Homo sapiens: one gene and its partners. The protein of the gene in region 1 interacts with the protein of each later gene in a biochemical or structural test. Each region holds a gene or a part of one and is shown on either strand. Other genes may lie near its edges.

What was found.
Region 2: of the proteins of LRRK2 (region 1) and MAP2K7, one has a biochemical effect on the other in vitro, tested with the Homo sapiens proteins (2 studies listed by BioGRID).
Region 3: of the proteins of LRRK2 (region 1) and MAP2K3, one has a biochemical effect on the other in vitro, tested with the Homo sapiens proteins (2 studies listed by BioGRID).
Region 4: the proteins of LRRK2 (region 1) and PAK6 form a complex in vitro, tested with the Homo sapiens proteins (2 studies listed by BioGRID).

The regions. Positions count from the first base shown.
Region 1 is NC_000012.12:40,318,982-40,326,005, forward strand, and holds part of LRRK2 (leucine-rich repeat serine/threonine-protein kinase 2), read left to right. Parts: exon of another isoform or gene 1-994; intron 995-1,006; coding exon 1,007-1,194; intron 1,195-2,052; coding exon 2,053-2,207; intron 2,208-3,053; coding exon 3,054-3,200; intron 3,201-3,337; coding exon 3,338-3,529; intron 3,530-4,178; coding exon 4,179-4,325; intron 4,326-7,024. UniProt on the Homo sapiens protein: Serine/threonine-protein kinase which phosphorylates a broad range of proteins involved in multiple processes such as neuronal plasticity, innate immunity, autophagy, and vesicle trafficking.
Region 2 is NC_000019.10:7,900,028-7,906,886, reverse strand, and holds the start of MAP2K7 (dual specificity mitogen-activated protein kinase kinase 7), read right to left. Parts: upstream 3,011-6,859; 5' UTR 2,943-3,010; coding exon 2,819-2,942; intron 1,080-2,818; coding exon of another isoform or gene 1,032-1,079; intron 1-1,031. Other genes in the region: volume-regulated anion channel subunit LRRC8E, read right to left, coding at 5,974-6,859. UniProt on the Homo sapiens protein: Dual specificity protein kinase which acts as an essential component of the MAP kinase signal transduction pathway. Essential component of the stress-activated protein kinase/c-Jun N-terminal kinase (SAP/JNK) signaling pathway.
Region 3 is NC_000017.11:21,308,691-21,315,714, forward strand, and holds the end of MAP2K3 (dual specificity mitogen-activated protein kinase kinase 3), read left to right. Parts: intron 1-3,451; coding exon 3,452-3,591; intron 3,592-4,801; coding exon 4,802-4,847; intron 4,848-5,456; coding exon 5,457-5,540; coding exon of another isoform or gene 5,541-5,620; 3' UTR 5,621-6,542; downstream 6,543-7,024. UniProt on the Homo sapiens protein: Dual specificity kinase. Is activated by cytokines and environmental stress in vivo. Catalyzes the concomitant phosphorylation of a threonine and a tyrosine residue in the MAP kinase p38.
Region 4 is NC_000015.10:40,270,047-40,277,070, reverse strand, and holds part of PAK6 (serine/threonine-protein kinase PAK 6), read right to left. Parts: intron 4,848-7,024; coding exon 4,350-4,847; intron 4,206-4,349; coding exon 4,072-4,205; intron 3,726-4,071; coding exon 3,599-3,725; intron 3,521-3,598; coding exon 3,395-3,520; intron 2,930-3,394; coding exon 2,795-2,929; intron 1,145-2,794; coding exon 977-1,144; 3' UTR 1-976. Other genes in the region: BUB1B-PAK6 (serine/threonine-protein kinase PAK 6), read right to left, coding at 977-1,144, 2,795-2,929, 3,395-3,520, 3,599-3,725, 4,072-4,205, 4,350-4,847. UniProt on the Homo sapiens protein: Serine/threonine protein kinase that plays a role in the regulation of gene transcription. The kinase activity is induced by various effectors including AR or MAP2K6/MAPKK6.

The DNA of each region.
Region 1 (7,024 bases):
GGGTAAGACAAGTCCTTGGGCCTAAGGACTTTATAACCTGGTATTTCACTCAACTACATGATAGCATAAATAATGTTTGCTTCTGTTTAAGTATTCCTTAAACATTATAGATCTCCCAAAGAAAATTAAATACAAACCTCTTTTTAAAGTGAATTTGACAAAGCAAAATAAATTGGAATATATAGATAAATATGCTAAAATTTGTCATATGTACTTTGCGTACTTTACATGTGTTATTTCATTCTCAGGGCAATCTAAGACAGTCACTTTTATTATCTCATTTTATAGAGAAGAAAGCTGTGCAGTAAAGAAATCAAATACCTTTCCCAAGGTTACAGAGCTAGTAGTAGAGCCTGGATTTGAATCTGGGTTCTGACTGATTTTTAACTGCCATGACAAGGATCAAAGCTCAAAGTGTGATCTCTGTGTTAGAAACATCGGGGTTGCTCTTTAAAAAAGCCGATTCTCAGGCCTCAACCCAGACCTACTGACCCAGACACTGCAAGTAGAATCCATCAAAATGCAGTAGTTACTTTGAGAATCATGAAACTCTGCTACACAGTCTGTCTTCCTATTCATGGAAGTCCTCTCCTAGTATATAAATGTGAAGTAATATTTCTATTTCAAACCTGTATTGATAACTGTCTGGAAGATAATTTTCCTGGGAATATATTATTGATGAGACTGCAAAACAGATGTGAGGTATTGGATTGATCTTTCCATTGTAGCTAGGGAAATACTGATGTTCATTGTTTCAGTGAAGTTCAATGATTTCCTATCCGAATTAACTCCCTTAATTTAACAATTTTTTTTTTTTTTTTGAGAGTGAATGCCCCTCTGGGCTTCTAGGCCACATGGTTGCTAGAGAAATTAGGTACTGTGTTGCACTTGAAAACACTAAAATCTTTCTGACTACTTTCACTGAGCAAAGAGACATAAAATGCTTTAAATTTGCAACATTTCAGAAAATAAATTTTAGTGATTATTTATGACTCGAATCTTTCAGATTTTGACAGTGAAAGTGGAAGGTTGTCCAAAACACCCTAAGGGCATTATTTCGCGTAGAGATGTGGAAAAATTTCTTTCAAAAAAAAGGAAATTTCCAAAGAACTACATGTCACAGTATTTTAAGCTCCTAGAAAAATTCCAGATTGCTTTGCCAATAGGAGAAGAATATTTGCTGGTTCCAAGCAGGTAAAGAAAACCTTAAAAAATTAATTGCTACATGGAAATTCACTATCTATTCTTTTAATTGTCAAACTAACTGTAGTCTATAATAGATGTATTAAATAAATAAATATATTTTGCTTCTAGTGTAAACCTCCTACTGACATGTATCATTTATTTTGGAATAAAACATTGCATCTGACACTTTAACAATATAGTAAATCACTTACTTTATGTGTATAGTTACTAGTTGGCTTATCACTGTTGAAATTATTTAAGAAAGGTAAATAGTGGAGATTAATGTGTGTGTGTGTCTGTGTTTGTGTATGTGTGTGTTCTTAAACAACACTGAGAGAGTTTATTAAGCAAGTTCTGAGAAGATAGTGAGTTTTCAACAGAATTTTAAAAGCATTTATGGCATCACAATGGATGCCTATGTTTTAGCCTATACTATGGAAATTTTTCCTACTGCTCTAAGCAACTGGGAAATTTATAAAGTAATATGATGTTGAAATGTGCAAATTACATTGATTGATGGATGCAGCCAATTTTAAAAATAAATATACACTTTTTTTCTAGGACATGTATTTTTCAGGATTTATATAAGATTACATTTGTCTATGCATAACTAATTGTAATAATTTATGTATTAGTGCACAGGGATTACCGAAAATATTTCATGCATCTACATCTGAGCATGCATTTGAATTGGTTATTGACCACTGAATTTTTGGTGTAGGAAAAATATGTAGTGAAACAATGTTACAAAAAGATTACAATTGTTTGGAATGATTACCTTCATTGACTTTAAGCAGTAAAATCATTTGCTCAACAAGGTTGGGTGTTTTGTGAGGCTGTATAACCATAGTGTCCTTTTGCCTTTAGTTTGTCTGACCACAGGCCTGTGATAGAGCTTCCCCATTGTGAGAACTCTGAAATTATCATCCGACTATATGAAATGCCTTATTTTCCAATGGGATTTTGGTCAAGATTAATCAATCGATTACTTGAGATTTCACCTTACATGCTTTCAGGGAGAGGTAAGTATCTAATGAAGACTTATTAGATTTTTAGAGACTATTAATTTAGACTTATTAATTTTTAGAGAAATTAGGGAGATGGCATATGAAAAGTAATATGCCATTTTCTCAGAGTTTACTTGTTTGGAAGGCAGCTGAAGAATTAGAAAATAAGCTCATAAAACCTTGGAGTAGGCAATCTAAAGACACACAAGCACATATAACCTCATCTAATTTGTCAGGAAGAAAATTCCTTAGGTGCTCACTCAGATCTTGACTGTGATTACATTGTAGGGACTGTAATTATCTCTTTTCTGTTGCACAGCCACTAAGACATTTACAAAAAAAGAGCAAATCCGGTGTTTATAATGCTAACTCTTTCTTCTAAAATAAATAGAGACATTTTGGTACTCCAAAGGGAAAATATCATTTTGGGGATTAAAATTAGCTTTACACAGGTGTTACTGGTTTCCAAAATAAACCTTACCTTGATTGGAATTAATCAACATATAGGTAGTTACATTGCATTAAAAAGTTCAGAAAGTTTTGCGTTTAGCATGATCAAAAACTTCTTTTTAAAAATTATGAGGATTTATTTATGATTTTCTTTCTTCATCTGTCGAGCATATTAAACTGCTTAACAGCATCAACCTGAAATGGATCTTAATGTGCAGGGGATTTAACTCTTTTTATTGTAAAGTTGTGGATAAAATATTTAATAGATATGGATGAGGACTCATATCAGTAACAACCCAATACTTTATTTCAAAATGAATAGATCTGTATTACAATCACTTGTGTTGTGTGCAGTAGATTTTTTCCCTTTAACTTAGGAAGCAGTTAATAATTAATGGCTCCATTTTTTAGAACGAGCACTTCGCCCAAACAGAATGTATTGGCGACAAGGCATTTACTTAAATTGGTCTCCTGAAGCTTATTGTCTGGTAGGATCTGAAGTCTTAGACAATCATCCAGAGAGTTTCTTAAAAATTACAGTTCCTTCTTGTAGAAAAGGTAAGGAAATCAATTTGAATGTTTTCAATTGCAACACTAAAGAAATTTAAACTTAAAAAAAAAAAAAACTTTACCTTAAAGCTTTGCGACAGTATGAGGTTTAGACAAGGTGTTGAGCTCTGTTTTGAATCATGTAGGCTGTATTCTTTTGGGCCAAGTTGTGGACCACATTGATTCTCTCATGGAAGAATGGTTTCCTGGGTTGCTGGAGATTGATATTTGTGGTGAAGGAGAAACTCTGTTGAAGAAATGGGCATTATATAGTTTTAATGATGGTGAAGAACATCAAAAAATCTTACTTGATGACTTGATGAAGAAAGCAGAGGAAGGTATGTTTTGATACAACTTACAAATGCTTTTAAGTGATCCTTCAATACTTATGAAGTGACTTTTAATAAATGTAAATATTCTTATCCATAAGGGATGAGTTGAAAAATAGTATATTCAATTATAGGGACAGTTCAGAAAACTGAATTATATTTATTACCAATAAAATCTTGTATTCTAGATTCAGAAAATGTTGATTTGAGGGTTTGAATGCTGGCTTATTGAGCAACATAACCTCATCTGTGAAACCGGAATACCAACCACATCTATCTCATAGAACTGTTATAAAGATTCAAATAGACAATACATGGACCTAATTTACCAACATGTCTGCCATATAATAACAGCTGCAGCTTCATGAATGTGGCAAAAGCAGAGAGTAGATAACTTTCTAGTCAGATGTCTGGTAGTCTGCAGCAGTTCAGAATTCTACAAGTGAACGTAGGAATAAGTTTTTAAAATTCCAAGTAGATAGATACTAAGTGAATCTTTAAAATGTTCTCAAATTTCCTAGAGAAATATAGGATTGGTTAGAAAGGGAGGGATTAGAAATTATAGAAAATATTCCATTATTTTTTCACATCAAAACCACAAATTTATGTATCTCCTTAAATGTTGTTTTTATTTAAAAAATGTTTTATTACTTCTCAGGAGATCTCTTAGTAAATCCAGATCAACCAAGGCTCACCATTCCAATATCTCAGATTGCCCCTGACTTGATTTTGGCTGACCTGCCTAGAAATATTATGTTGAATAATGATGAGTTGGAATTTGAACAAGCTCCAGAGTTTCTCCTAGGTAATTCTTTTTGTTAATTTGAGAATAAAAATTAGGATGTAATTTTCTCCTTATAATTTAGAAAATAGATTTCATAATTATATTGTCATAGATTTTACTGTCTTCATATATTTGTTATAATTTTTGTATTTGGAATGATATATTTTAAAGGAATATAATATTACAGATCTGGAATTTGTTTTGCACATAATCATGTAGACTAGGATCAAGATGAGGATGAGATTATCATGGAAGCAGAAATATTTATGAAATATATCTTTGTATTTGCCTTAATTGCCAGGGATATGGGAGGCAAATAAGACAGTTTTCAGGTGAGTTAAGTGAAGCAGCCATATTTTATAAAATGACAGAATAGGTAAAGGAAGCACACCTCAGTGTAGCCATAGCAGGGGTTTTATGACTCAGTGTGACAATGCTGAATTCTCATAGAAATATTCATTAAAAGCCTTGAAATTAAAGTCAAAAGTGTTACATGGTGACATACTCAAATACTTTTTTTTTTTTTTTTGATATGCTGAACAATTTACATTTCTTGGTTCCGTGAATTCAATCAGTGATTTTCAGTAGAGTATGATGGAAATCATTGAATTCATGTAGCATGTTTAGGTGCTCATTGAGAAAAGGTGAAGTCATGGTAACCATGTTTCAATATTCTCATTTGTATCTTGACTTCCTGCACATGGATTTTTGGGCCTAAAAGATGTTTTTAAAACATGCTCATACACTTCAGAAGATGAAAAGTGTATGCATTATAACTACTTTGGGAAAGAAACAGTCAACATATGTTACTGTATGTCATTCTGTAGATTACATGTGTGGTTTCTCATGTCTCTCAGAATAAAAGCTAATGTCTTTACAAGACCTGCGATGCTGTGATCTGTCTGGCTCCTCGGTTATCATTTTTAAAAAAAGATATACTTTGTACAAATTTTTTTAATTGACAAGTAAAAATTGTATATATTTATGGTGTACAACATGATGTTTTGATATATGTATATGTTGTGGAATGGAGAAGTTTAGCTATTTAACATATACATTATCTCAAATATTTATGTGGTGAGAACTATTAAAATCTACTCTCATAGCAATTTACAAGTATACAGTATGTTATTATTAACTGTAGGCTGACATACTCAAGTTTTAAACATTCCTGAGAGTCATTGGGACAACTATGAAATGCATTAGATTGATTTAATATAAAGCATTTGAAGACAATTTTGACCTTACTTTGTTTAGTTTTTGTTGTTGTTGTGTGTATACATTTAATTTTAATCAAATTACCCCAGAAATAATGCCTAAGATCTGTCAGTCAGGACATAATATTATTAGCAAAAAGTTGTCCAAAATTTGAGACATGATATTTAAAGCTAAATAAACTCCTTTATACCCCTCTTATTGGCATTGATTGGGAAGTTTAGGTTGAATTTAAATGCTTTGGAACTCAGGAAGTTAATGTATTAGTAATAGTGGGTTAACATAAAATGCTGAATTGTCCTTGCTGAATCCTACATCTTAACCCCAGACTTCAAGGTATACAGGAAAGTACCAGACATGGTGCATCCTTCCTCTGAAGAAATCCCAAACTGTCAGACACAGATCCCTAAAATATTTCTTTTTCCTGCATTAAAATGTGTTTCAGATGAATGGACACGTTTTGAGTAGTGTATGTGGAAACGTCATTTACAAAGTCTGTTTAGTTGGCCAGGTGTAGTAGCTCACTCCTGTAATCCCAGCACTTTGGGAGGCCGAGGTGGGTGTATCACGAGGTCAGGAGTTGAAGACCAGCCTGACCAAGATGGTGAAACCTCATCTCTACTAAAAATACAAAAAAATTAACTGGGTGTGGTGGTGGGCATCTGTAATCTCAGCTACTCGGGAGGCTGAGGCAGAGAATTGCTTGAACCTGGGAGGCGGAGGTTGCAGTGAGCCGAGGTTGTGCCACTGCACTCCAGCCTAGGCGACAGAGCGTCTCAAAACAAAACAAAACAAAAAACAAAAAAGCAAAGTCTGTTTAGCTACCCATATAGGAAAATGTTTGTGATTACTCTCCCTTCTCTAGACCCATGTCCCATAAATCCATAAATCCCATGTTCATTTACAGAAAGCAGTCTAGATAGGAGTTTCTCAGTCTTTGAGCTGTTGCCATTTTGGCTTGGATAACTAACTCTTTCTTATCGAGGGTCATCCTGTGCACTGCAGAATGTTTGGCAGCATCTCTGTCTATCCACTAGATGTCAGTAGTATCTCCCCTTCCCTCAGATGTGACAATCAAAAATGTCTCCGGATGTTGCCAAAGATAAGGGGTGGGGTTGAATACCAGTGATTTAAACAAATTAGGTGTATCCTTCTAAAAACATTTTACAGGTAGCGACTCCAGCATCTTTATATTAGAGTAATCTGGAGAAGGTTATGCCTCTCTCAATTTTCCCTCTTTCCATTTTTATTTGTAGGGCAGCAATGCATTCAGGCTTTTGGTAACTCTTTTTCCCAAGATAGCAGTAACTATTATGCAGTGAGTAATACGACCCACCTTAATAGATATGAATAGACTTGTTTTGTGAATATATTTTAAAATATAAATGTATGGGATTCTGTTCATGCGTCTGAGAAGCCACAGGGTACATTTCCTCTTTGTGGAGCTATTTATTTTTCTGGAGAGCCAAGACAGGTATTTCCACTTCAGTGGTGTGATTTGAGGG
Region 2 (6,859 bases), on another chromosome or scaffold:
ACCATGCCCGGCTAATTTTGTATTTTTAGTGGAGACGGGGTTTCTCTATGTTGGTCAGGGTGGTCTCGAACTCCCGACCTCAGGTGAGCCACCCGCCTCGGTCTCCCAAAGTGCTGGAATTACAGGTGTGAGTCACTGTGCCTGGCCTAATCTCTAGTATTTTTAATGCAGACAGGGTTTCACCATGTTGGCCAGGCTGGTCTCGAACTCCTGACCTCAAGTGATCCACCCTCCTTGGCCTCCCAAAGTACTGAAATTACAGGCATGAGCCACTGCGCCTGGCCCAGTTTTTAAATTTTTGAGACAGGATCTCGCTGTCACCCAGGCTGGGGTGCAGTGGTGTGATCATGGCTCCCTGTAGCCTCAACCTCCCCGAGTGTTGGGATCACAGGTGTGAGCCACCGTGCCTGGCCTCCCCAGAGGCTTTGTTCAATTCCCACCGTCTCCAGAGGTTCCCCCAGGCTGGCCCCCTGCAGGGCCGCTCACCCAGCTAGAATGTTCTCTCTGGTGGGAATGTGCTCCTTGTCCAGTGGGCCCCCCTATTGCAGCCCCCCGCTACAGAGGAGAGGGGCTCCATCTGTTCTATTCACTGCTGTGTCCCTGGCGCCCAGGGCTGGTATGGAACCCGGGGGGTGCTATGTGTTCACCTAGTTGTTGAGAGAGATCCATAGGCACAGGCCACCCACCCACCAGGCCCAACTTTCTCGTTCTCTCAGTTACACACACACAGGCGTGCACCCCCCCCACCCCCGGAGGCCACAGACTCCCATTCAGTGGGGGAGCCCACCTCCTCCTCCAGGGAGTCCAAAGTGGAGCTGGGAGTAAGGGAGGGGGAGGAGGAGGGAGGACGCAGAGGAGGCTGGGCTGGGCTGACCGCTGCTTGAGTGGAGTGAGAGAGAAAGTGAGAGTGAGGGGAAGGGACATGGGGACACACACAGAGCATGGGGGCTGGGGGACGCCATTCTGCGGCCGGGGCAGCGGTTAGGTCAATGGTGCAGATGTCCAAGCAGCGATGATAAAAAGGCTGGTACCTGCTCGTTGGGACGGGGCAGGAGCAGGGCTTAGAGTGATCACAATAACTGGATGGGGAAAAGGAAGAAAAAAACAACACCACGATAAATCACAACAGAAACGACTGATTCGTCCAAAAGAAAAGAAATCAAATCATAAACGAGGAGGAGGGGGAGGCACCGAACTGCAGAGATGGCTAGGAACCGACAGAGATGGGGAGGGCGGGGAGGATGGGATGGAGTTGACACAGACAGAGACGCCTGGAGGGGACTCCTCGGGGGCCTGCCTGCCACCGGCCTCCTAGCTCTGCATGGGAACGGCCACCCCTGAAGGCACCCGGGATCCTGGACTCAACCCTGTCTCATCCACTCAGGGGCCAGGGAGGGCGGCCCCCAGGGGCTAGCAGGGACCCGTGTCTTGGCTGGGCTTCTTGTCTCAGGCAGTGTCCTGCACCAGAATCCCCACCTCCATGATTTCTCTGGACCCCCAAGAGACTCCCCAAGGAGGAACCCACGCTGACTCAGGTCAGGAGAGGGAGGGACAGGAGGGTGTCAGGCTGTGAAGGTCAGGCTGGGTGACCAGGGAATGGGTGGGGTGCCCAGATACGGGGGTACCTTTCTCGCCTGCCATAATGACTCCATAGAGAGAACTAAATAAACTACGAAGGTCACATCAGAGGAGACAAGAGAGAATTTTACTGGGTCAAGAAAGACACAAAAAGGATCATGGGTCAGGGGTGGTGTTCACAGGGTTTGAAAATCTAATTTCCTCCAGCCCAGAGGATTTAGAGACCAGGATCTTGGGGAAAAAGCCGGGAGACTAGATATGGTCAGTGTTCCCAGGCCAGGTGTGTGTGAAGCGAGAGGTACTGATCTAGGATGACAAGGTGTCAGGGAGGTAGGTACCGAGGTGGTGGGACTGATCAGAAAGCAGGTGGATGTATGCTGGGGCGCGGCGGGAGCAGGCCTAGAGTCACACTGGCCCCAGGTGTCCCCAGGTCAGGTGGGTGTGGGTGTGAAGGGAAGGGGAGCCATCACTTGAACACAGGTGACAAAGTCACCGGGCTGGCTGGGGGTCGATGTGCATTTCTGGAGGTCAGACACCACACGCTCACCAAGATGGTGGCAGTGAAACTGGTCACAGGGATTTGCGGGGCCTGGTGTATGTGGGAGGGGGTCTGCTGAGCCCAATGCCATGGTCACTGTCGCCAAGAGGGGGAGAAGGGACCCCCTCCCGTCCCCCCACCTCAGACACGGTCACAGGGAGAGCGAGAGGGAGAATCCTCGGGTCAGAAGAGATGGGGAGGGGCTCTATGTGGTCAAGTAACCTCAGGTGTCCCCGAGCCAGGCGTGCGCGTGTGCGTAGATCGTCGCTGCACGGGGCTGACAAGCCCCCAGGCCGGGGGAGGGGGGCGCCAGACAGTCCCTGAGATGACGAGAGTGGTAGCATCAGGTCAACAGGGACGTGTCTGTGTTTTCGGGGCGACCTGGATGTGGTCACTGTCGCGTGGAGTCGGGGAAGCCCGACCCAGAGGATCACGGCGATGGGGGCGGGTCATCAGCTGGGGGCCTCGCCTGGGTCCGGGAACTGGGCTCCCAAGCCCTGAGGGTGCGAACCCCCCGGAGCTCGCCGGCTCCACGCCCCCCGGGTCACCGTGACCCTCGCCCCGCGAGCCCGCAGCGGGGGGGGCGGAGAGGAGAGCGAGCGCCCCGGAAGCGGGGGCGGGGCCTTGTGGTGGGGGCGGGGCCTCCCGCGGCGCGCGCCCCGCCCCGCCCGCCCGCCCCCTCCCCCACGCCGCCGTGCTTACTGGGCCTGGGCCGCTGGGGGCTGATATCCAGGTTGAGGTCGATCCTCCGCCGGGCCTCCCGGTTCTCCTGCTTCAGCTTTGCTTCCAGGCGGGACAGCTTCTGTTCCAGGGAGGACGCCGCCATCTTCCCCGCCGCCACCGCCGCCGCGCACCGCCCGGCCGCCCGTCAGTCCGGCAGACAAACACCGCACTGCGCCTGCGCCCGGATGACCCCGTCGAGCCGCCGTCTCGCCCCGCACCGCGCATGCCCGCGGCGCGCACCCGCCCTTCTCCGCGTGCGAACCTCCGCGCGTGCGTGCTTCGGCTCAGCCCGAAGGATGACGCCACCTAGAGCTCGAGGCAGGCAACGTGCAACCCCCGCCTTCGTCGCCACCACCACCGTAGTGCGCATGCGCCAATTCCCGATCGCTCCTGAGAGAGGCGCTGCGAGGAAACACCATTCTTCTGAGGACGGTGGGCGGGGAAAACGGCGCGCATGCTTAGCGAGGCGAAGCCGTGTTCGCCCGCGTGGCTTTTGCGCATGCGCATTCCTGGAACCTCGTTCCCAAAGCGGCAGTCGATCCCTGGTCTCCACGGCGGTGCAGCCTCAGCCTCCTCGCTTTTCACGGTCGGCTTGGGCGTCCCTTCGGAATGCCTTCCTCACTGATGGTGCTTTATTAGGATTCCTCTTGTGCTTAATTACCTCCTAGCCTCCTGCTGGCAGCGGGGTGCCGCCTCCTCACCGTAATTAGGCTCCGTCGAGAGCCCTTTCCCTTCTTGCCAGCCCCAGCAGGCTCAGAGTTGGCCGAAGCCAGGGGGGAGGGGACGGCCATGGGAACCCAGCGGTGTGACCCCTGCCCTCGGCGACGGGGCCAAGGTCAAGGCCAGAGTTGTTGGCCAGACCCACATAGAACCTCAAGACACCCCCCTTATCTCTCTCGCACCCGGAACGTGAGCCCAGCGCCTGGACGTGGAGAATTCCTATCTGAGGAGGGGCGCTGGGGTTAGGTGCCAGTGCTTGGGCCCCCGGCAGCCTAAACCACTCCTTTAAGTGGTCCGACGGGTGCTGGGGAAATGTCCCATCTGGAACCCAGGGATCCCCCCAAGAGCGGCTTCCCTCTGCTCTTAGATGCGAGAAGGAAGTTCTGATTTTGCGGACACCCGGGAGGTGGCCAGGGCCAGGCAGACTCTGCCAAGTGCCCTTCCAGCTTCTGGTCCAACGAGGGAACACTTTGGGATGAGAGTTACCGGCTTGTCGGAACTCCTCTGGTGACGATTTGTGGGTGGAGCACACACAAGTGTAGAGTTATAGCTGAGGTCTTTACCTTTCCGTCTTCCAGGCAGCCTTCTGTGCCTCTGCTCTGAGAACATGAGACTCATCCTTGATTCTGGCACACGGGTGTTACTTGGTCACATGAAATAAAAGGTTACGGGCATGGTGGTTCACGCCTGTAATCCCAGCACTTTGGGAGGCCGAGGCGGATGGATCACGAAGTCAGGAGAGGACCAGCCTGGCCAAGATGGTGAAACCCCGTGTCTACTAGAAATACGAAAATTAGCCGGGCATGGTGGCAGGCGCCTGTAATTCCAGCTACTTGGGAGGCTGAGGCAGAGAATTGCTTGAACCCAGGAGGCGGAGGTTGCAGTGAGCCAAGATTGCGCCACTGCACTCCAGCCTGGGTGACAGAGCCAGACTCCGTCTCAAAAAAAAAAAAAAGAAAGAAAAACAGGGTCTTGTTCTGTTGCTCAGGCTGGAGTGGAGTGGTGTGATCACAGCTCACTGCAGCCTCAACCTCCTGGGTCCTGGGCTCAAGCAATCCTCCTGCCTCTGCTTGCCTAGTAGCTGGGACCTCAGGCACACATCAGCACACCTGGCCAACTTTTTTTTGTATGTTTTTGTAGAGATGAGATCTCACTATGTTGCCCAGTTTGGTCTCAAGCTCTTGAGCTCAAGCGATCCTCCCACCTGAGCCTCCCAAAGCGCTGGGATTACAAGCATGAGCCACTATGTCTGGCCCTAATGGACGGTGTTAGACAATGACAGGAGTGCACATAAGAGATCAAAACTAGAACTTGCATAATTAGTATTATTTATTAAGCACCCAGAGAACAGTCAAGACCAAAGTCCCTGCTTGTCCTTGGAAAAATGTCACCTCTATAGCAGGTGTCCTAACCCTGCAGTCCACCCACCTTAGGAAGTCCTTGAATAGCTCTCTGGGGGAAATCTATCAGCTGCCTGAAGAGCTTTGTGTGTATTTGTACACCAGCATTTTCCTGAGGAAGGAGGTGCCTGGCTTCATCAGTTTCTCAAAGGGTCTAGGACCTCAAAAGGGATCAGAATCTAGATATTTGGATACCCTATTTTTTTTTTTTTTGGCAGAGGTGGGGTCTCGCTATGTTACCCAGGCTGATCTCGAACTCCTGAGCTCAACCATCCTCCTGCATTGGCCTCTCAAACAGCTGGGATTATAGTCATGAGCCACAGCGCCCGGCCCTGATACCTTTACGTCAGCATTTCCCAACATACTGTCTCAGGGCCACTTACCTGCACCAGAACTACCTGGAATATTTAGGAACAGACTCCTGGCCCCCAACCAAACCTCCTGAGTCAGTGTTTCAGGGGAGGGGACTGGGATATTTTGTTTTGCACCGACTCCCTAGGTGATTTTGATGCTTAGCCAAATGAGAACCATTGTTCGGAGCTAACATATAACACAGCAAACAACTGTGTCTGTGTCCTCTCCTTGGGAGAGAACTCCAGAAGTAAGTTGCTTTGTTGCATGGGGAGGGGGAGTGTTGGAAATCCCACTGGGATGTGTCGTTTCCCCCATATGTGGCACTAATTGAGCTGGAATATCCAGGGAGAGGCAGCAGTTCTAGGGATGGGAGCAAGGCCAGCCAGCCTGCCAGAGACACAGGTGTGGTTTTGGTCGGAGAATGCCATGACTGAGTTAATCCCTCCATACCAGGTTCCACCCCAGCTCCACAACATCCTGTCTGTCTCCCCAGACAAACCAGCCCAGATCCTCCTGGGCCCCAGAAAGATGACACAGCTGCCCCCGCCCCCCCCATCTCCTGGCCTGGACCCACTTGGCTTCCTATCTTGGAAGACAATGGTTGAGATTCCAGGGCAGAAGCATTTTTAAGGCTCTACCTAAAACGGCCCCACCCCAGCTTCATTCCTCCTCCATCTTGTCCCGCACTTCTGCCGGCAGACCCTGGTAAAGCGTGTCTTCCACCAGGAGCCCCGCCTTCTTGAGCCCCCCACAGTTGCCAAGTTCTTCTGGCAGCGCCTCTAAGCGGTTGCCTTTGAGCTCCAGGCGGCTGAGGGCTCTGAGGGCACCCACGTGGGGCGAGAGCTGGCTCAGCTGGTTGTCGCCCAGAAGCAACGTCCGCAGCTTGCGGCAGAAGAAGAGCTCTTCGGGCAGGGCCTCCAGGGCATTGTAGGAGAGGGCCAGGTGCTGTAGGTTCTGCAGGAGGCCCACCTCGGGTGGCAGGGAGTGTAGCCCATTGTGGGACACATCCAGCAGACGGAGGCCTGAGCACAGGCCGAGCTGGGAGGGCAGGGTCTCCAGCTTGTTGTAGCTGAGGTAGAGCTGCTCCAGGCTCCTGAGCTTCCGCACGTGCTCAGGGACGTAGGCGATCTGGTTGTGCCACAGCCTGAGCGTGACCAGCTTCCGGCAGTGCTGGAAGCTGAGGATTTCCTCGATGGAGCGCAGGTGGTTGTCCTTGAGGTCAAGTTCCTGCAGCGCACCCAGGCTGAACACTGCATGGGGGATGCGCTCCAGCCCGCAGGCCACCAGCTCCAGCTCCCGCAATGCCGCCAGCTTCTTGAGGCTGTTCAGGGCAACCAGACGGGCCCCATCGTTGTGCAGGCTGAGCCTCTGCAGGTGGCCAGCAACGTCGGTCACACTGGCTGGCACCTTCCCGGCGTTGCTCCGGAGGGACAACACCTTGAGCTGCTTCAGCTCCCGGAGGCTCTCCAGGGTGGCTGCCCGAGCTAGCTCCTGGGGGAAAAGCCCCTCCAGGTGCAGCTCCTCCAAGCCCCGCAGCCCAAACACC
Region 3 (7,024 bases), on another chromosome or scaffold:
TTGATGCAAAGGACAAGTTCTTGCTGTATTTAGACTGCACAGAACTGGTTGGATATTAGAGACCCTGCTCATGACTACCTCACACATACACACACCCTATGTCCCTTCCCCATCTCCCTGTCTCCCTTCCAGTTGTCCATCCATCATGATTGTTGGGGCCACCATGGCTAGTGGCCTTCTGATATGGCTGGTGGAACTTGGACAAGTGTGTGCTAAGTGTATATTTCAGTTATCAAATATTGCATAGCAAACCACCCTAGAACCTAGTGACCCAAACCAACAGCGGTTTCTTATTTCTCATGTTTCCACCACTGTGGCTGGGCTCAGCTGGATGGCTCTTCTGCTGTACCTGGGATTGGCTGGGGTCATGGCTGGGCTGGGCTGGTCTGGAAGGCCCAAGACGGCCTCACAAACATGGGCCTCCTCTGCCTGGCCTCTCCATGCAACTTACTCACATTGGCCTGCTCCCTGGGCTTCAGAGCATGGCAGTGTCAGCAGAGTTGGAGTTCTTTCATGATGGCTGGCATCTAAAAGGAAGTTCTCTGAAGTGCTAGGCCTGGAACTGGCACAGCATCACTTCTGCCTCATTGTGTTGGTCAGCGAGTCACAGGCCAGCCCAGGTTCAAGGGCAGGGAATGCTCCCGGCTTAATGGAGGATCAGCAGGTGCACACAGCGGGAGGCGGAGGTGGTCACTTTAGGCACAGGTTAGGTTTTTCTTTCACAAGTTACAAACGTAGTGGAAACCTAACATAAAAATAGAGGCACAGTAAGGGGAAAATGACTGTAGTTATTCTACCTAGAGACACCTCTTACCCCGTTTCAGTGCCAACATTGTGCATTATATTATATATATAATATTTTTATTACATATAATAAAATACGTTTTATTAAAATTTAGAGAAATACAAACAATATGTAATGCTTCTCTTTTTTTGTTGTTGAAACAGAGCCTCGCTCTGTCACCCATGCTGGAGCGCGGTGGTGCGATCTCGGCTTACTGCAACCTCCGCCTCCCAGGTTCAAGTGATTCTCCTGCCTCAGGCTCCCGAGTAGCTGGGACTACAGGCGTGCGCCACCATGCCTGGCTAATTTTTGTATTTTTAGTAGAGATGGGGTTTCACCATATTGGCTAGGCAGGTCTCAAACTCGTGATCCACCCACCTTGGCCTTCCAAAGTGCTGGGATTACAGGTGTGAGCCACTGCGCCTGGCCTCGTAATGCTTCTTTTTAAAAAACTTTTTAAAAAAAATTTTGTAGCATTACATGTTGTTCATATTTGTCTCTCTCTCTCTGTTTTTTTTGTTTTTTGTTTTTTTTGTTGTTTTTTTTTTTAGATGTAGTTTTGCTCTTGGTGCCCAGGCTGCAGTGCAGTGGTGCAATCTCGGCTCACCACAACCTCTGCCTCCTAGGTTCAAGTGATTCTCCTGCCTCACTCAATCTCCCAAGTAGCTGGGATTACAGGTGTGCACCACCACATCCAGCTAATTTTGTGTTTTTAGTAGAGATGGGGTTTCTCCATGTTGGTCAGACTGGTCTCGAACCCCCGACCTCAAGTGATCTGCCTGCCTCGGCCTCCCAAAGTGCTTGGATTATAGGTGTGAGCCACCGCACCTGGCCAATTTCTCTAAATTATAATAGACTCCTGTATGTATCCCTTCCAAAGACTCCATAACCATCTGCCACCATTCAGTCACCCTGTCTGCTGATGTGGGTTGTTTCCCTTGTTCCTGCTGTTTTCCTTCCATTTCAAATTCTCAGCCATCCTGGGGGAGCGACTGATGAAACAGAGTCGGGAGAGTCCCCCTGGGTGGGGCTCTGGCCTCGGCCTCCCCCCATCCTGCAAGGGCCCCAGAGCTCTCTTGGCGTTGGCTTTTTCCCACTCACTGCACAAGCCTCAGGATGCCAGTGGGAATCACCCAGAACAGACAGGGGTCATGCCGGGGATGGCCCTTGGCCAGGAGCAAGTGCTGACTGGGTGCTGGCCTGTTAGTGTTGTCGCTGGGGAGTCACAGGGGTGCGACTACGGTCCTGGCTGGGTCTCCGCCCCCATGGTGGGGCCGGCCCCTGGCGCTGGACATTCAGGCTGTTTCTTAGTATTTCCTGGCAGAAAACACCATATGGCACATCTTCGTGTCTGGAGGCTATTTTTGTTGTTTTTCATTTTTTGAGCTCTTTAGAAAAAATAAAGGAGTACGAGGTTGAAGGTTTGGACACTTCTGCTTTTCTAATTATAACTCTCATGGCCGCTGGTCCTTCTCCTGTAGCTCGTATGGGGTACTTGCTCTACATATTGCAGTCAGTGAAAATTCTAAGAGAAAAGCCCCCCAAATCGGTACGGTTTTGTCCTGTGAACACGCATGCACACATGCACACACACGCAGTGGGCCCTGCCTGTGTGGGTGTGTTTGTCTGAGCTGGAAAGGGCCTCTAGCCTGATGGGAGGCACAGTCTCAGCACAGTCCTTAGGGTCTTGTCCGGGCTCCAGTTGCCAGTGCCAAGTGTTTGTGCTGAGGTCTCTTCCGTTCATCATGGTGATGACGGCCGGCAGTGAGGGCCCTTGTGCTGGAGCCTCGGAATTCTCTGTTCTTCCAGGCCGGGGCCAGGGCTGACATAACTTGTTTTTTCCATCCAGTCATCATGATTGGAGCCCAGAGTTGGTTGTAAGCTAGCTAGTCCGTCCCTTCCATGATGACTTCCTGCCAACCACAGGGCTGGGAGCTTGGAGCGAGGACAGAGACCCACCGGCCCGATGTCACCCACAGGAAATCTGGATCCAGCAGGGCACATGTGGCCACACAGGCCACTTGTCTAGGAGGGAAACTGCTGGGGCCCTGCAGAAGATGAGGCTGCAGGCTCACGGGTGCAGAGGCGAAGCAGCCTCATGGTCTCACACTCTGTCCGCGGCCTTGGAGACAGCTGTGTGTGTGTGTGTGTGTGTGTGTGTGTGTGTGTGTGTGTGTGTAGCATTTCCCATGTGCCTCCTCTGTGAAAACAGCCCAAATTAATGACAGCAGATGCTGAAGTCTGAGATGGTCAGATGTTAGGAAGGGGATTGGCTGTGACCACCTGGGACCTGCCCACCTGGCTCATGAGGCTACGGCCCAAAGTTGCCAGCTCCTCAGATTTTTCCAGAGCAGCTGGAACCTGCATTGTTTTGTAAAATCTTCAGAATTCAGGTTTTCTGAAAACCCTATGATGGTCCCACCAGTCCCGGTGTGGGCTGAATCTGCTTCCTGAGCTGGGTCCTGCTGGCTGGGTCGGAGGAGCTAAGAGCTGGCATCCCCGGCTTTCTCGCCTTTGTTCTGCTGGGATGTGGTAGGGAGATCAGCTGTGCAGCTTTGACGCCTGGCTCTGGTACCAGGATGGGTGGGAGCCCCCAACCCTCGCTCCTGGGTGCAGAGCGTGGTTGTATCTGGGGCCGGGGCCTCTGACCCCCTGTCCCCGCTGCAGATTGAGATGGCCATCCTGCGGTTCCCTTACGAGTCCTGGGGGACCCCGTTCCAGCAGCTGAAGCAGGTGGTGGAGGAGCCGTCCCCCCAGCTCCCAGCCGACCGTTTCTCCCCCGAGTTTGTGGACTTCACTGCTCAGTGGTGAGTCTTGGGTGCTGCTGAGCGCCTGCCACTGCCCCTCCCTGGCCAGATCCCTGCACCTTCCTGGGCCCTGTTCCTTTATTCCTTTGGCAAATAAACCCCCAGATGACTTGGCATCCAAATATGTAAGGCAGAAACAGCTGGAGCATGAGGAGCATTTGACAAAACGATGGTCTTGGTGGGAGATTTTAATACAGTTCTTCCAGAAGTGGACAAATCAGATAGACTGAAAAAGAGAACAAAGTATATGGAAAATTTGAACACAAAAAACAAGTTTGCTTTTATTGATATCTAGAACTTTGTACCAAATTAAAGAATGCCCCATAGGAGCCTTATAAAAATCATGTTTGAGAGGCTGGGCACGGTGGCTCACGCCTGTAATCCCAGCACTTTGGGAGGCCGAGGCAGGCGGATCCCGAGGTCAGGAGTTTGAGACCAGCCTGACCAACATGGTGAAACCCCGACTCTACTAAAAATAGGAAAATTAGCCGGGCGTGGTGGCGCATGCCTATAATCCCAGCTACTCAGGAGGCTGAAGCAGGAGAGTCGCTTGAACCCGGGAGCCGGAGGTTGCAGTGAGCCTGAGCCGAGATCATGCCACTGCACTCCAGCATGGGTGACAGAGTGAGACTGTCTCAAAAAAAAAAAAAAATCATGTTTGAGGTTACAGAAGGAATAAGGAAGAGGGCAACTTCTCTGAACTTAATTAAATAGAGCAAGAATTGGGTAAGGAAGAAGCGGCCGGGTGCGGTGGCTCACACCCATGGTCCCCGCACTTTTATTGTTGACCATAATCAGCAACAGAGGAGCCCAGCAGAGTCCCTGGGCAGTCTGACCCCTTTAATTGTGGACTAACTTCTCCCAGAACCCATGATAAGGAGTTTCTCTCCTGATTGAGGATACCAAGTGTGTGACTGTTAGGCAGAGCATTGCAGCCCCATTTTGGTGTTGATATGGAAATTCCTAGGTCACTATGCAGACAAGAAAACCAGGACCCCAGGAGCCAGAGAAACTTGCTGCAAGTCTCTAGTTTGCTCCTATGAATGCCCCTCCACCCTGGAAGAAGCCCTAGACAGTCCTGTCCCTTCTTCCCTGGGTGCACGTGTCCCCTGCTGCTAGGCCTGGGGCAATCCTGGGGTGGTTTGGCTGGCCCTTGGGGGCTGGGCTTCCTCCCTGCCAGCCTGGCCACAGCTGCACTATTCTCTCCTAGCCTGAGGAAGAACCCCGCAGAGCGTATGAGCTACCTGGAGCTGATGGTGAGTATGGGCGGGAGGTGCCTGCCCTGCTCTTCAGGGCTGGCTGGGGCTGGGTGGGGCTCTGGGGAGAGGGCTGCATCCTGCACACAGATGGGTAGCTCCTCTGGCTGGCCCTGTGTTCTCTCCTTTAGGTGCTCGGTCATTTGTTTGCTCCTGCATACCTGGCTCCCTCCTCCCTCCTTCCTGCATGCCAGGCCCTGGGAAGGGTACACAGGCAGTGTGTGACAGAATGGGGCAGAGGGGCCAAGGGTGGCATCAGGGAAGGCTTCATGGAGGAGGTACCATTTGAACTGAGCCTGGAAGGATGAATAAGGGTTATCTCCTGATGGAGAGGCTGTCCCAAGCAGAAGGTCCAGCATGGGCAGAGGCCTGACGTGTGGGGGGAAAGGGAGGTTAGTGTGGCTGGAGAGTGACCACAAGAGAGCTGAGGAGGAGCCACAGATGCCATCTGTGACAGTCATGGAGGGCCTCCTGGGGGTGGAGGTCCTAGAAGGATGAGTAGGATTTTGCCAGTCAGGAGAACACTTGGGCTGGAGCTGGTTGGGGAAGAGTGGCCACCTCTCCCTCCCGCTACCCCTCCATGGTGACTGTGCCTTCTGTCACCCCCAGGAGCACCCCTTCTTCACCTTGCACAAAACCAAGAAGACGGACATTGCTGCCTTCGTGAAGGAGATCCTGGGAGAAGACTCATAGGGGCTGGGCCTCGGACCCCACTCCGGCCCTCCAGAGCCCCACAGCCCCATCTGCGGGGGCAGTGCTCACCCACACCATAAGCTACTGCCATCCTGGCCCAGGGCATCTGGGAGGAACCGAGGGGGCTGCTCCCACCTGGCTCTGTGGCGAGCCATTTGTCCCAAGTGCCAAAGAAGCAGACCATTGGGGCTCCCAGCCAGGCCCTTGTCGGCCCCACCAGTGCCTCTCCCTGCTGCTCCTAGGACCCGTCTCCAGCTGCTGAGATCCTGGACTGAGGGGGCCTGGATGCCCCCTGTGGATGCTGCTGCCCCTGCACAGCAGGCTGCCAGTGCCTGGGTGGATGGGCCACCGCCTTGCCCAGCCTGGATGCCATCCAAGTTGTATATTTTTTTAATCTCTCGACTGAATGGACTTTGCACACTTTGGCCCAGGGTGGCCACACCTCTATCCCGGCTTTGGTGCGGGGTACACAAGAGGGGATGAGTTGTGTGAATACCCCAAGACTCCCATGAGGGAGATGCCATGAGCCGCCCAAGGCCTTCCCCTGGCACTGGCAAACAGGGCCTCTGCGGAGCACACTGGCTCACCCAGTCCTGCCCGCCACCGTTATCGGTGTCATTCACCTTTCGTGTTTTTTTTAATTTATCCTCTGTTGATTTTTTCTTTTGCTTTATGGGTTTGGCTTGTTTTTCTTGCATGGTTTGGAGCTGATCGCTTCTCCCCCACCCCCTAGGGTACCAGCAGGCAGAGCCTTGCCCTCTGCTCAGGCTGGGGTCCAGTGGGAGGGGCCCAAGATCTCTGCTCAGAGAAGTGCAGGGGGAGCCTTCCAGCTCACTCTCCCTGAGGACTGGCTTGACAGGGGCTATGGGTTTGCTTTGGTGTTGTTTTTAAAAAAAGAAAATATATTTTTTTGAAAAAACGACTGCCCATCCCGGGTCCTTTCCCTGATGGGTTGGGGCAGTTACCTGGTTGCTGTTTTAATTAAAAAAAAAAAAAAAAAAAGGACTAAAGGTTGTGTGAGATTGTGTATGACACCTGTGAGCCCCCCTCTTACTTGGGGAAGGTTGTGGCCCTTCAAGGGACCCTTGTCTCTGGGCCAGGGGCAGGGTGTCGTGCTCAGGGGAGGGAGGACTGCCAACCTACCAGGCCCTTCTACATCTGAGGACACAGAGGCCCCCAGAGGGCTGTGATGAGGTAACATCCTGTGATCATCCAGGCACCAGGCCCTGTACTGACACTGGACAGAGCAGCGAACACACAGGTCCAGTCTGCTGGTGGCGGCCACCCATCCCACTGTCCTGAAGTAGTGATGACAGCCAGGTCACAGAGCAGCGAGCACCCTGCACACTTTGCCTGGGCTGGACACGGTGACCTCATGGAGGTTACCTGACCTCCAGTTTACAGATGGGAACAACAGACCCAGAGAGCTGACATCACTTACCCAAAGCCACACAGCTTATAAGACAGAAAAACAGACTTGGGGA
Region 4 (7,024 bases), on another chromosome or scaffold:
CTTGAAAGGTAACACAGTTGCCAATCCTTACATTCCTGTCTCTGGCCCTCACGATGCACAGTACAGGAGAAGCTCAGAAGCCTCCTGAGCTCCCAGGAGTGTTAGACTTAGCATGGACCACTCCACTGGCCAGGTAGACACAGGAGTGGAGAGGTGGAAGCCAGGCCAAGAAAGCAGGTCCCTTCAGGCCAGAACTTAGTGGGAGAGAGGGGCAGCCTTCCTGAAACTGGCTGTGGGTGACCTGGAGGGACCTGGGCTGTCAAGGTGGCTTTCCTCCCCTTACACACACACACACACACACACACACACACACACACACACGATGTTCTCTCCATTCTGTAAAGTGAGAGCACCTTCACCACCGACCCCATTCTTTCTCTTTCACTCAGAAATTGTCCCCTCACTCCCTGCCCCCAGCCATGGCCTGGAGCAGGCCATTCACAGTTCTGGGCGGGGAGGGGCTGTACAGGTGGGACTGCACCTTCAGGACATCAGACGTGAGGGAGGAAGCGGGATTCCGGTCATAAAAACCACCCCGTGGCCCTCTCGAGACTCGAGGTTTGAAGCTGGAGCTGAGAACAGCAGGTATCTGTGGAGACCAGCAGTCTGCCCTCTGCAGTGGCCTAGGACACTAGTGGACAACTGCCTTTAAAAAACCACAGCAGCCTTTTCTACTGTGTTGGCTGCAGAGGCCAGGAACGCTGGCCTCTGCGTTTCTTAGAAATATCCCTGTGCAAATATCAAGGGGTCATCCTGTAGAAAGGGGTCTCCATCTGGGGACTCGGGAGGGAGAGACACTGAGGGGGCAGGTCCGGCCTGGCCCAGTAGGCTGAAGGGCAGAGGGTGGGGCTGGGGCTTCACATTTCAATCTTTGGAGAGAATACTGAGAGGAGGAGGCAGGCAAGTCCTGCCGGCAGGCTGGCTGCCCAGTGTGCCCTGCCTGTGGGCGTAGGTGGCAGGCATACTTGGGGTGGGCTCAGCAGGTGGAGGTCTGCTTTCGGTAGAGCTGGATCAGGGGCACCAGGCACTCAGGTAGCCCTGTCTGCAGCAGGAAGGGGTGGTCTAGGAGCTCCTGGGCTGTGGCTCTCTCTTGGGGGTCCCGCACCAGCATCCGCTCCAGGAAGTCTCGCAGCACTGGGGAGACCTGTAGAGGCAGGGCAGTAAGATGAAGCCACAATTTGCAGTCACTTCGGGGTGACCTGATTGCCTGGACTTATCATTGTTTGAAAGTCATGAATTCGCTGGTTTTTTAACTTCCTGTTCCCTTGTCCCTCCCCACCCCCTCAAGGCTCTCAGCATTCAGATGCTATAGCTCTGTGGAAGGGGCAGAGGATTGGCATCAGTGATCCAGATCTGGCTCTATCCGTGATCTCAGGCAAGTCACAGTTTTCTCTAGGCCTCAGTTTTCTCATCTGTAAAATGGGCTAGTGATAAAGTATGCTTGCCCTGTCTGCCACATAGGGCTTTTGAGATTTTAAAAACAGGTCGCTGGGCGCAGTGGCTCAAGCCTGTAATCCCAGCACTTTGGGAGGCCAAGTTGGGCAGATTACGAGGTCAGGAGTTCGTAGACCAGCCTGACCAACATGGCGAAACCCTGTCTCTACTAAAAATACAAAAATTAGTTGAGCATGGTGGCACGTGCCTGTAATCCCAGCTACTCAGGAGGCTGAGGCAGGAGAATTGCTTGAACCCAGGAGGCGGAGGTTGCAGTGAGCTGAGATCGCACCACTGCATTCCAGCCTGAGCAACAGAGAGAGACTCCATCTCCAAAAAAAAAAAAAAAAAAAAAACCAACAACAACAGAAACAAACAAGTCAAGGATGAGGAAGTACTCTGAAAAATAGAAAATAAAGTGAGACCTGAAAAGGAAGATTTCTTTGTTGCTCTAGGCCTTAAGAGTCTAAAGCAAGGGCTTATCTTGGTTCATTTTGAGCCAGTATCTTGGGATGAGGCTGAGTCTTGGGCAGAAGGCTACATCCTCTGAGGAATTAGCCAACTGGAGATCTTTATATGCTAATTTTGGGGTTAGCGGTGCGGGCTCCAAGGACCAGTTGTCTTGGAAGATGTTTCCTGTTGGTCCTCCCATCCAGCTTTGTGTTGGGGCCACAGAACTCTTGTTTTTTTGCTATTTTAGAGGAGAGGCTTCAGCCCTCTGAGACATTTCTTGTTTTGGCCACCAGATGGCGGTGCCACTTAGCAGCCCCGTGCTGACCTGCCAGCAGGGGGCGTCCACAGTAAGGCCTGCGGGGTTGGGGCCGATTTGGCAAAAAGGGTTACATGTATACACTTCCATGCACTTATACTGGCTTTAAGGGGAACGCTGTGGCTTAGCTGTGTCGGGGTGTGCAACGATGGAGCATGAGCCGACTCGCCGTGATGGACAGGGACATCGAATCATGGTATGGATCTCCCGACACGGGTTAGAAGGGTTTGTGCTCAGTGAAGCTTCTCCGGATCCCTCCCTGGACAGCAGGGATTGCTGGTGTCCTGGCTTTCCCTGCTCATGGGCCCCACTGGGCTTCCGACCAGTGCCTGCCAAGCAGCAACCCTTCTGCCAAGCAGCAACTCTCCTGCCACAGCCGTGGGAGGCGACTTGTCGGAGCGCACATGCGAACTTGTGCGTAGATGCGGCTCCACACCCAGGTGCGGGTTTTGTGTGGGGAAAGAGGAGCCTTTTCCAGGAGCCCAGACCCTGTGGCTTCAGTGGAAGGGAGATGCTGGGAGCCCAGGTTCTGGTCCCCTTGCCTCAGGAGGAATGGGGTCTGCGAGGTCGCACCCTTGTGTGCCAACTGACCTTGTGAGAGTTTTTCAGCTTGGGTGGGGGGCTGTCCCGGAGCCTCTTCATGGCTTGCACTGGGGAGTCACTGAAGTACGGTGGCTCCCCATCTACCATCTCAATCACCATGATGCCCAGAGACCAGATATCCACCTGCAGGAGGAAAATGTCCCTGACCCCATGGCCAGACCCTGGCCCATTGGTAGCTGCGTTCTGGTGGCAGCAGTGGTGGAGGGGGGACAGCTGGCCCCAGCTCTCCTTGGTGGGTCTGTCTCCTTCCTCCCCTGGTCACCTGCCCTGTGGCCAGTTACTGCCTGCATGAGTGACCACTGCCTATAGGGACACAGCTGTCAGTCACTCAGAGAAAGGCCATCATACATAGGAGGCCCGGCCATACCCCATTCTGCCCTTGAGCTGAGGAAAGCACTTGCAGGACTCGTTCCTGGCAGCAAAGTCACTGGGTAAGAGCAGCCCCATCGAAAGGGGGAAGGGTGTTGACTAGGTGGGACTCTGAAAACCAGGGCTGCTTTTGGTGAGCTCACTGGAGGGGCCACAGCAGAAGAGCTGCCAGTTGCCAAGTTGCTTTTGGGAGGTCTGGGGGGTGGAGGGAACGGTTACCTCAGTGGCATACAAAGACCTGGAGATCACTTCAGGAGCCATCCAGTAGGGGGTTCCCACCAGGGACTTCCTCTTAGGGACGTCTTTGCTGATCTGAGCACAGAATCCGAAGTCCGAGAGCTTCACCTGCGGTTGAAAAGGGAGTGAGTGGTGGATCAGGAGGAAGTGGGAGCGTGGCTGTGCCAGGGACAGGATGGGACCTACCCTGCCATCGAGGGTCAGCAGGATGGAGTCACTCTTGATGTCCCGGTGGATGACACCCTGAGCATGCAGGTAGGCCAGGGCCTGCAGCACAGCCTCACACACAGTGGCAATCTGCTCCTCATTCAGCCTGGACAGGAAGGTGGGGCCACCCGATGAAAGAGAACGTTAGCTCTGGCAGGTCGTGGGGTGGCTGAGCAGAGTAGGAGTCCCTGGTGCTAGGCCCCACAGCTCCCAGGCAATCTGTTTGGCAGCACAGTCAGGCCATAGCCCTGGTGAAAACTGGGGCCTGAGCTTTGGCTAGAAGCTATCCTTCTCTTCTCCACTCCCAAGACCCCTGGGTCTCAGTTACCCCAGCAGGCAGGGGAGCCCAGGCATCCCAAGTCTTCTGGGCCACAGGCAGAAGACCACATTGCCCTGGCAGGGCCATGGTGAGGGCAGCCTGCACTCAGGGTCCAGCCCTCCCAGCTGCCCACCTGACTTGGGAGACGATGTCTGTGAGGGCTCCTCCCTGCAGGAACTCCATGAGCACCCACAGCTCCTCGCCCACCAGGTAGCTCTTGTACATCTCCACCACGTTGAAGTGCTGGTAGTCCCGCATGATCACCACCTGGGGGCAGGCGGGGGCCTGAGTGCCAGGCACAGTGCCCAGACGCATGGCCACCCACTGCCCCTGCTCACAGATGTCCAGCCTGGCTGGCTGCTCACTGCCCATCCCCAACGCCCCCGTCTGTGTCCCACCCTGTCCTCCCACCTCGTTGAAGAGCAGCTCCCTGCGCTGCTGCTTCCTGAGGTCCATCATCTTGACGGCCACCTGGCGGCCCGAGTGCTTCTCCCGGGCCAAGCAGACGATGCCGGTGGAGCCCTCGCCAATCTTCACGTAGCTGTCCAGCAGCAGCCGGGGGTCACCCTGGTCCACCACCATCCTGAGCGCAGCCTTGAACTGCTCATGTGTCACAACACCTGTGTCCTCACCAGCCAGGGCACCCTTGGCAACCGTGGGGTCCTGGGGCAGGTACAGGTTGCTGGTGCTGATCTGGGCGTGCCAGGTGCGGGGGGATCCCGCTGGGGAAGACCGGCCTGGAAGCTGGCCTGTGGCCGGGGCTGTGCGGAGGGACTTCTGGGGGCTGCTGGTATCCGAAGTGGTCAGAGGGCTGAAGGTCCCCACCGGCTGGTCCGAGGGCAAGGACTGGGCCTTGGCCACCAGGCTTGGGGGGTTGTCTTTCTGCGGCGGTCGGAAAGAGGAGTTGGGCTGCAGGGACAAAGCAACAGGAAGGGTCAGGGCTGTGGGAGCATTTGGAATAACCTTCCCGGAGGCAGGGGCTGGCCGCCGTGACCTCTGGACTCTGGCAGGGTCAGGCGGGGTATCAGATCAAACTAGGGAGGTGCTCTGAGCAAAGATTTTCAGACAGAGCTGAAGCCCAGTCACAGTCCTGTGCCAGCAGTCCCCCGCAGGGCACCAGGCTGGGCAGGCCCAAGACAGCTCCTTACACTCGCTCTGCTGCACCTGGGAAGACAGAGAAGGCCAGCTCCCCGCCGGGTCCTGCGCTGGGTATTTCTTCCTGGGCGATTGACAGCTAGACCCCAGGGAGGCTGCCGTGAGGCAGACTCTTCCTCTGAGCTCAGAGGCTGCTTGAAGAATCTGGGTCAGAGGCATTCTTCACTCCCAAGGCTCCCCCACCCCAGGACCCATGGGGGCAGAAGAGGCCTGGCAGTGGGGTGGGGAGCAGTGGGCAACTGTGTCTCCACTCCCTGAACCAAGGCAGGGGAGCCACACCTGGGGCCCGATAGCCCTGCCTGTGCCTGCAGCAGGGAGTTTGCAAATCTGTGCTGGGAGGTTATGTCCCTGACAGAGGACCACAGAGGTGTGTCACCATCTGGGGGGTTCTCAGGTGTCTCCCCTGGGCTGGGAATCTGGTGCCAGAGAGATCTGGAGTTAGGAGGGTAGGTCCAGCCAAACCCAAGCCTTGAGGCCAGGGATGGGGAGATGTCTTAAGGACCCCCTAAAGGAGTCCTTCCACTTCCTCCCTGGCATGAAACTCCTGGCTAAGGAGCCCCCGGGAGGGAGGAGAAGGTAGGGGGCCTATCCTCATTGGCTCTGGCAGGGAGGGAGGAAGGGAAGGTGGAGCTGAGGGGCAGCCTGGGCCCCCAGTGAGCCCTGCTCAGGCCCAGCCCTGGAAGCCTGCGAGGCTTCTTGCTTTTCCGAGCCCAAGCCCTTCTGCTCTTTCTGACAGGAAAGGTGCCCGCCCATCTTTGGGTTCTCCCCAAGGAGCGGTGATATGCACCATGACCCCTCCCAGGGATTACGTGTTTTTAAAGGGCACCTGGAGAGGGATGCTTCAGGGGATGCAGAAAAAGCCTTCTAGGAACTTCTCCAAACCCATCATGTAAGCCATTGTCTTAGGTGCCCAGTGGGTCCTGGTCCTGATCCCATAGCTGAAACAACTTACAGGAAATCTCAAGCAGTAAGTTTGGGCTGGGATGCTTGCTCAGGGACCCCAAACCCCAAATCTGGGCCTTGGGCCCCACCAGAGTCTTTTCAGTGTCTTTGGCAACCCTCACTCCCTTCCTTCCCCGACCCCCCGCAGCTTCAGGGCTTCTACTCTCCAGCCAAGTCCCTGGCCTGCTTAGGGTGGAATAGGCACTCCTGCTGGCCGACAGCCATGCTGGGGCAGACTTCTGCCACCCCCACACCTGCCTGCCCACCCGAGTGTGTGCTTGACCTTCACAGGAAAGAAGCTAGCAATCCTCCCAGGACTGCCTGGACTCACTCCATCCCTGATGAGTACATTTGGACAGTAAACATTCTCCCATGTCCTCGCCAGCACCTGACTGTCACCATCCACTGTGACACTGTGACACTGTCACCATCCACTGTGTAGTGGAGCAGTGGGACCCCTGGACTGGGCTGTCAGGACCTGGGGCCCAGCCCTGGGCTGCTCTGCCCTGTGATGAGCCTTAGGCAAGTCATCCTCTCTGAGCCTGTCTCCACTACAATGCAGGGACGTGTGCAGAGATCTGGGGAGCTAGAGAAACCGCAGACTTCCCGCCTCAGAGCCTGATTCGGTGGGAGCCTAGAGCAGAGACTGCATTTGAACAAGGTCCCTGGGTCCTAGGAGGCCCATGGAACATACTTTGAGAAACTCTGCATAAGTGGGCAGTATGATCTTACGGCCTCAGGGAGCCTCTGGGAGGGCTGTGAGGGGGGTGGAGGGCGCATGGCCATGACTGAGGCTGTGATACCAGGTCCTGGGAACAGAGGTTCCATGAGACGTCACCAGGCAGGGACAGGGAGGGAAGTGGGGCAGGGCTCACTGCATCACACAGTCAACCTGTAGAAAGGCTCGGGGCTCTAAGGAAGCTGCCTGCTGGCCTGAGTGTGGACTTAACTCAGAAAACATGCTCTCCAGGCACCCATCCAGGTGGGTC